Linked DNA regions of Homo sapiens: regions 2 and 3 are each linked to region 1. The links come from fine-mapping of genetic effects on gene expression. A gene starts in region 1. Each other region holds a variant in brackets. All regions are shown on one strand. Distances are from middle to middle.

Region 1 (2,764 bases):
TATTTCGACATAGCCTTCCAAGACCTGGTTCCCAACAGAGAGAAACAATGAAAAAAAAGTAACCCCCAGGCATCACCTGGCCTATCAGTCAAAAGATCTGTAAATGCAAGTTCTGCACATCATTCCAGTCTTCTTATGCCATAGCCTCTAAAGCGAGGGTTCCTAAAGGGTACGCAAGGATTCCACGCATTTCTGCAGCCCCTGCGGCAGTGTAGGCATTGCGCAGTTTTAATAAAAAAGCACCACCACCACAGTAGGCAAACCAGATGACCATCGCAGGTCACAGGAAAATTAAAGGCTGCGGACTGTGCTACTGCCCCTTCTGATGCCCCCTCCTCTACACAGCAATCATTCAGCGTCCCTTAGTCACTCCGGACAGCGACAGGCCCCGCGGCCGCCATGCCCACCGCCTCCATGCCATGCCCACCGCCGCCATGCCTACCGCCGCCAAAGTCCACCACCGCCATGCCTACCCGCTGCCAATGCCCACCGCCGCCAATACCCACTGTCGCCGCCTTCCCCCTACCTCCCAGCCACTTCCTACGGACTCTCCCCGCGCCGCGACCACCAACACAACCCCCACCACTGTCACACCGACTCATCCCCCTGGTCCACTGCCATAGCCTCCTCGCCTCGGTCACTGCGACGAATTCCCCCCCCAGTCGCCCCACGTACCCTGCTCCACCACGCAGTGGTCACTATTATACACCTACCTGCGCTCAACACCCCCTAAATACCGATCACTTCACGTACCTTCGCCCCGCCACAATCACTCCAATATACCTACCTCCGCCTAAAATCCCTATGCACTGGTCCCCCCACGTACCCTCGCCACACGGAACTGCAATCACCCTGATGTACCCACCTCCACCCATGTCCCTTGCCCACTGCGGTTACCCCGCATGCTCCCAGTCACCACCGCCCTTCCCACCGCAGACACCCGCAATAGGACCTGTCGCGACACCACAGTTGGGGGCGGATGGGGGACGCGCCCCAATGCGAGCGGACAGGATACCATCGGGGCAGAACGGCACAACAGCAAGCCTCTGAACATTCCGGATCTGGTTCTCCAGAACAAAGGACTTTAGGGCCCAAATTCCGTTTATTCAGTACTCCAAGTCCTAAAAACTTGGAATATCTGATGAATAAAAGTGGCCGCTCCCCAGGCTGTCTCTTGAGAGAAGCCACCGGCACAGCTGACCTTGCCCGCTCCATCGCGTCACTGACCGCTCCTCAGACAGATGCGTCAGGCATCTCCGGCGGCCGCTCCACTCTGCGCCAGACTCGCTGCAGCAGCGGCAGGCTTCGCACACATCCCCGCCTGAGCATGCGCGCCAGCCTGCCTCTGCGGCCGCGCAGGCGTGCTTGTTTGCCGCAGTGCAGGGGTCCCAGCTCCCTCCCTCACCGGAATGACCTGGGGGGAGGGGGCTACTGGACCCCTAGGGCCCCACAGCACTGTTGCAATGAGAGGGGGCCTCTAGAAACCATAAGCAACCTGGGATCAATGGACATGTCTACCTGTTTTTTAAAATGTGTAAAATACTAAAGAAATAATTCTTGGTTCTACAATAAATTTTTGCACACACCACTGGCCAAACAATCCTAATTTACACTCACCCTCAGGTCTTCCTATGTGCGGTACAAAAAAGCTGGTTTGGAAAAGTTAAATGCGCCATAACCACAATCAATGCAAATACGCCAGACTTGAAATCCTTCCAAAAGAAAATATCCCTAACTCTAAAAGCATGCTACATTGTTCAAATTTGGTGCGATTTTTCTACCCTTTTTCTACTTTCTACATTTTGAGGGGGTAAATTGTGAAAATTATCTCCCCCAAAATCACAATATAATTAAACTCTCCTATACGGAATGGATAGATCATTCAACTCAAAAACACTGGCTATTCAATTTTTGTAAAACAAAAATATGAACTTAGACCCCCACCTAAGATCTAAGTAGGAGAGCCTTTCTTTGCCTATTAGAATTGGATACATTAAAATTTTTACCAATAATCAATGATAGCTGGAGTGGGGAGAAACAGGCACTTTTATATAATACTAATGGACAAGTAAACATTATTTACGACATAATATTCTATCTGCAGAAATAACGGAAGCATCAGTAACTCCAAAATTTAGACGCTGATGTAGCTTGGGAAAAGACACTGCAGAAAAGAAGAAAATAATCCTGAAACTGCATCTGCATAGTTTTTACACACATTTGCCCTTTCTCAATTGCCCATTATCGAAGAAGGGAGGGTGATGTGAGTGGAGGTTGACTAAATGGTTAAATCCCCTCCCAAGCCCTGTAAGCTACTGCTCAGTTCCCAATGATCCTACATTAAAACAGGTGCGCAGAGGCTTATCAATGCTGACTTCTATCGTAACAAAATCTCAGAAACTGTGTAATGTTCCTCACAGAGAACAGATAGGCTAACTAAATAAACGTATATATAAATAATAACATGCAATATGGCTGATGGAAAAAATGATGTATTAGGCTGAATCATATAAAATTGTCAATATTGAATTGTTTTGACCTACAAAAACATTGCAATTTCTAATAGTTCATTGATACATATTCACATAAAATAACATGGGAAGTTGACTCTGATCACGGGAGTCAATCGAAAAATAAAATGTAGGCTGGGCACAGTGGCTTACGCCTGTATTCCCAGCACTTTGGGAGGCCGAGGTGGGCAGATCACGAGGTCAGGAGATCGAGACCATCCTGGCCAACATGGTGAAACCCATCTCTACAAAAA
Region 2 (2,764 bases), 39 kb after region 1:
AATGGTGGCAGGTAGGAGGAAAGCTCCCTCATTTTCACCAGGTGGCAGGCATGGAACATCCCCTGAAACCTTATGCAGTAATCTTGGTTTTTCTTCCCTAGCCTCAAAAAATACTTCGAAATTACTAAATTCTCCTCTTCAGGAGAGTCCAGGAATAGGAGTTTTAAAATAATTAAGACAACATAACATCTACTATAAAACATACATCCATTTAAAAAGTATTTGATCCAGAAGGAACTAAATCGTTGATGGAGAAAAAAATATGACATCATAGATCTCAAAGGAAATGTTCATTTCTTCTATTCCTACTTACCTGGAAATTTATGGCCTTTAAAAGCTGATTCTGAGAGATGAAGCCACCTGGACTTCGTAGGTCAGGTGGGGCCTTGGAGAACTTTTCTGTCTTACAACAGGTTTGTAAAATGCACCAATCAGTGCTCTGTAAAAATGCACCAATCGATGCTCTGTAGCTAGAGGTTTGTAAAATGGACCAATCAGCACCCTGTAAAATGGACCAGTCAGCACTCTGTAAAATGGACCAATCAGCAGGATATGGGTGGGGACAAATAAGGAATAAAAGCTGGCCACTCCACCCCAGCCACCAGTGGCAACCTGCTCAGTCTGCTTCTATGCTGTGGAAATTTTGTTCTTTCGATCTTCACAATAAATCTTGCTGCGGCTCACTCCTTGGGTCTGTGCCACCTTTAAGAGTTGTAACACTCACCACGAAGGTTCAGAAGGCTTGTGGCTTCATTCTTGAAGTCAGTGAGACCACAAACCCACAAACCCACCGGAAGGAACCAACTCCGTACACAATTCTTAATTAAAATTTCAAACACGAGCGTACTACTTCCTCAACAAATGCTGACACCTAATTTAATACTGTTACCATTATATGATCTACCTATAATCCATGTACACATATACTATGAAGCATATGTAGAAACAAACACCAATGTATGTATGTATATGTATTTTTTTCTTCTTTTTTTTTCTTCTAGAGACGATCTGGTTCTATCACATGGGCTGGAGTGCAGTGTTGCAGATCACTGCTCACTGAAAACTTGAGTTTCTGGGCTCAAGCAATCCTCCTGCCTTAGCCTCCTAAGTAACTGGGACTACAGGCTGAGTCACTAAGCTTATGTACCTATCTGATCTCTCTCCATCTCTCACTCTGTCTCTCTTTCTGTCTCTGTCTTTGTCTCTCTCTCCCCCCACTTTCCCCTAAGTTTTTAAATTTTTTCACTTTGAAACATTAACCCACATTGCTCCTTAAAAGAATAAGTCAACCAAGGCTGGGCGCGGTGGCTCACGCCTGTAATCCCAGCACTTTGGGAGGCCGAGGTGGGTGGATCACGAGGTCAGGAGTTCAAGAC[T/C]AGCCCGGCCCACGTAGTGAAACCCCATTATCTACTAAAAATACAAAAGTTAGCCAGGCTTGGTGGCGGGTGCCTGTAATGGGAGGCTGAGGCAGGAGAATCACTTGAATCCGGGAGGCAGAGGTTACAGTGAGCCGAGATTGTGCCATTGCACTCCAGCCTGGGTGGCAGAGTGAGACTCCATCTCAAAAAAAAAAAAAAAAAAAAAGTCAACCTGGCCAAAAAAAAACCACAATGTGTGTATATAATCAGATGTATATCGCTGATTATTCAAGGAATAAAAAACTATAGAACTAGCTGAATATCATTCCTAAATTTGTCACAAGGAGTTTTATAATTTTGGAATTATTCCCTGCCACCCCTTAAAATTTTTATAGTAGCAACATTCTTCTATAATTACATAGATTTTTAAAAGTCAAATTACAAATAAAAAGACGAGGAATTTATAACTTTGGGAACAGTTTGTTATATTGTCAGGCTTATGTTGTAGAATGCAACAAATACAAGTTTATGCTATATTTTTGTAGGATGAAATCAGAACATCAACACTGGGAAAACAAACTGATTGGACAATAACATCAAGGTTGAAGAGAGCTCCACTGGAGAAAAGGGAGCATAATGCATACAGGAGGGATGACAAAGTTTCTCTGCTTAACCAAAATTTACTCAGGCTTCTCCTCCACCCATCTGTGGACCTCATTATAAAATCTAGTTTTAACAAGGAAGTCTGTTTATCAAGAACTCTCTTCTCGGCCGGGCAAGGTGGCTCACCCCCATAATCCCAGCACCTTGGGTGGCCGAAGCGGGCAGATCACGATGTCAGGAGTTTGAGACCAGCCTGACCAACATGGTGAAACCCTATCTCTACTAAAAATACAAAAATTAGCCGGGTATGGTGGTGCACGCCTGTAATCCCAGCTACTCAGGAGGCTGAGGCAGGAGAATCACTTGAACCCAGGAGGCGGAGGTTACAGTGAGCCGAGATCACGCCACTACACTCCAGCCTGGATGACAGAGCGAGACTCTGTCTCAAAAATAAATAAATAAATAAATATAAAAAAGAACCCTCTTCTCCTTGATATCTGATCACCCTTGATATCTGATCAGGTTCATCTTCCACCATCTTCCAAGTGATACATGACCACTCTGGCCCATCTTTAACAAGAATCTTGTTAGGTGTCAGTTTAGCCAGAATCCCCCTTATCCCTGATGTTTCCTTTTAGTAATTTTCCATTCCTTCACCCACTACACCCCAACCCTGCTTCTTGGTTATAACGTCCCTTTTTCCCATGATCTATTTGGAGTTCAGAGCAATCTCTCTATTCCATTGCAAAATCCCATTGCATTGGTCCCTGTATCTATCACAATGGTCCTGAATAAAGTTTTCT
Region 3 (2,764 bases), 85 kb before region 1:
ACTTTAAAAAATAAATATTTAATACACTGAATTTCACTAAAAGATTATTTTCATCCAACAAAAAATGGTGAGAAAAGGAAATATATCAATACTTCCCCCAATTTATTCAGGTTACTACAAAAAAATCCCTTTTTAAAAAAAGGGAAAAGATAATGAGATTCCTTGAACAAAGTAGGGATACTCACATAGCAAAAAAAATTATAAAATATTATAAAAAATATATAAAAAAATTATAAAAAAATTATAGAAAAAAGTTATAAAAATATTCTCCTTTGAGCCTCTAAAATCATGAACTCTCAGATCCTGAAATTCTGACATCACTGGCCACAACACACACAAACAATTTCAAAATCACCACAGCAGCTGCTCACCTCTCTTCCTTGAAATTCTGTGACATCTTCTAGACCTGCAGCAAACTATTAAAAACAAAGTAAATCAGATTAGACAATATACAAAATTCCCTAAAAAATAAGATACAAACATTGTTTCTGTAATAATTACCACAGAGCAATCTTTGCACAAGTCACAGATCTTTGGTCCTTTGTCACCTTTGTCATTTATTCATTTATTTCCTCCTCCAATTCCTCTTTATTTTTGAGATGGAGTCTTGCACTGTCGCCCAGGCTGGAGTGCAGTGGTGCAATCTCGGCTCATTGCAGCCTCCCTGTCTCTGATTCAAGCGATTCTCCTGCCTAAGCCTTCGAGTAGCTGGGACTACAGGCACGTGCCACCACGCCTGGCTAATTTTTGTATTTTTAGTAGAGATGGGGTTTCGTCATGTTGGCCAGGCTGTTCTTGAACTACTGGCCTCAAGTGATCCGCCCACCTCAGCCTCCCAAAGTGCTGGGATTACAGGCATGAGCCACCCCACGCTGCTAAAATTCTTCCTTCTTTAAATAGTAAAAATCGGCCAGGCACAGTGGCTCACGGCTGTGAGCAATTTTCTCTTCGAATCAGATTCTGAAGTTGTATTCCGCCAAATAAAGACTTTTTGAAAACGCCATGTGGTGGGTAAAATTAAATACACATAATAGGGGTGTTGTGAAACCAATATTCTAGAAGAGATAAAAACTTTAGGAATCTACTTCAATAGTACAGTAGATATATATCTCTCTCTCTGTGTGTGTGTGTATATATATATATATATATATATA[TAA/A]AATCTTTGAGATCTATTTCAAAAAGTTACATAGAAATTAAAGATAGAAAGAACAGAAAAAATAAATGAAAAATTTCATAAAATAATTGGAAATCATAGAAAAGAACAAAATGTAATAGGGCACTTCCATTGTAAGACCTAAGAGAAGTAAGATGGAGTAAGCATAGTCCATCTTTACACAATCAAAGAATTAAGAATCTCAGGAGGGATGCACTGATACGGTGGCAGAGAACTTGGAAGGCTAAATGTTTGAAGGTGAATTGGGGAACTCAAAGTGCCATAAAACACCACTGAGTTTCATGTATTTTCCTTTTCTCTAATATCCCAGCCTGAATTCAGTATTGGAGAGTTCCTGAAAAATAAAAACATAAAACTGCTTGTTGAGTACAAAAACCAATACTTTTTTTTTTTTTTTTTTTTTTTTTTGGGTGAAACAGAGTCTCGCTCTGTCACCCAGGCTGGAGTACAGTGGCACAATCTCAGCTCACTGCAAGCTCCGCCTCCTGGGTTCAAGTGATTCTCCTGCCTCAGCCTCCTGAGTAGCTGGGACTACAGGCGCTCATCACCACGCACAGCTAATTTTTTGTATTTTTAGTAAAGATGGGGTTTCATCATGTTAGCCAGGATGGTCTCGATCTCCTGACCCTGTGATCCACCTGCCTCGGCCTCCCAAAGTGCTGGGATTACAGGCATGAGCCACCACGCCCCGCCACCAAGATATAACTTCTATACTTACTATTTCAATGTAACTTTTTTTTTACAATAAGAATAGTTCACATCAATATTCAACAGAATATTCATTTTGCATAGACTATTATCTGCCTTCAAATGTAACAAAAATTATCTTAAACATCACTTACAGACAGGTCCTCAAAATGTCAAATAAACACAGTTACTATATTCTCATGTATAATAGAATTGAAAACATAAACACACAAAAACCTCCACATAAATATTCCTGGCGGGATTAGTCATAATAGCCAAAAACTAGTGAGTGGATGAGCAAAATGTGATATATTTATACAATAGAATATCACTCCTCCATCAAAAAAAATGGAGATCTGATATATGCTGCAACATGGCCAAACCTTGAAAACATTAGGCTAAGTGAAAAAAATTCTGGGTAAAAAGGCTTCCTTCTAATATAAATGCTTCAAATGCAGGTATCTACAAGGCCTGCTGGTATTATAGTACTCATCCATTTATTTCACATTTTCATGTTTCCTGAGCATTTATGTATGCTTGAAGCCATATGCCCAAACCATTTCTTTTTGACATGTTCTTTTGCATTATTTTCATCAACTACTTTCAGACCTGCTGAACAGATACAAGACTATCCATAATTCCTGGATTATTTCCACCTGGATTCCCTATTTGCTAACATCTTACAACATCTGTTTCATTTTTTTTTTGAAACATGTATATTATTTTATCCAAATGCTTGGAAAATTACAGCTATGACATTATCCCTTTATCCTTTAAATTGTTTTAATTTCTTAAAAACAAGAATTTTCTGTTATATAACCTCAGGCAATTATATAACTTAGGCAATTAATACTCACGTAACACTATAATCTACTTGAGGGACTGTCTTCAAATTTTGCCAAC

Which allele goes with the higher level. Positions count from the first base shown, and alleles are read on the strand shown. Sizes are in standard deviations (SD) of each study's normalised expression. Not every link is listed here.
For the expression in monocytes after LPS of the gene that starts at base 1,277 in region 1, TAA is the high allele of the variant in region 3 and A is the other (moderate effect, 0.75 SD a copy in Kim-Hellmuth 2017).

What was found. PIP is the estimated chance that this variant, and not a neighbour inherited with it, causes the effect. A credible set is the group of variants that fine-mapping cannot tell apart.
Region 2: its variant is the best candidate, but not a certain one, in a credible set for the expression of SNRPN in monocytes (TOPMed, PIP 0.62).
Region 3: its variant is the best candidate, but not a certain one, in a credible set for the expression of SNRPN in monocytes after LPS (Kim-Hellmuth 2017, PIP 0.53).

The regions. Positions count from the first base shown.
Region 1 is chr15:24,953,500-24,956,263 of GRCh38, reverse strand. It overlaps SNRPN (small nuclear ribonucleoprotein polypeptide N), which reads right to left and starts at 1,277. Exons shown (of 10, transcript NM_003097.6): 1 at 1,202-1,277. SNURF (SNRPN upstream open reading frame) reads right to left here and starts at 1,277. Exons shown (of 3, transcript NM_001394334.1): 1 at 1,202-1,277. The coding sequence starts at 1,215. All of the region lies in intron 4 of SNHG14 (small nucleolar RNA host gene 14), which reads right to left. RefSeq lists enhancers at 1-296, 297-862.
Region 2 is chr15:24,914,789-24,917,552 of GRCh38, reverse strand. The region is part of intron 3 of SNHG14 (small nucleolar RNA host gene 14); the gene reads right to left. It also overlaps a transcript of SNRPN not described here. Among named protein-coding and RNA genes, the nearest start is that of SNRPN, 39 kb to the left of the region's middle. The variant T/C (reference allele first, on the strand shown) is at 1,377.
Region 3 is chr15:25,038,455-25,041,218 of GRCh38, reverse strand. The region is part of intron 23 of SNHG14 (small nucleolar RNA host gene 14); the gene reads right to left. Among named protein-coding and RNA genes, the nearest start is that of SNORD109A, 2.1 kb to the left of the region's middle. The variant TAA/A (reference allele first, on the strand shown) is at 1,155.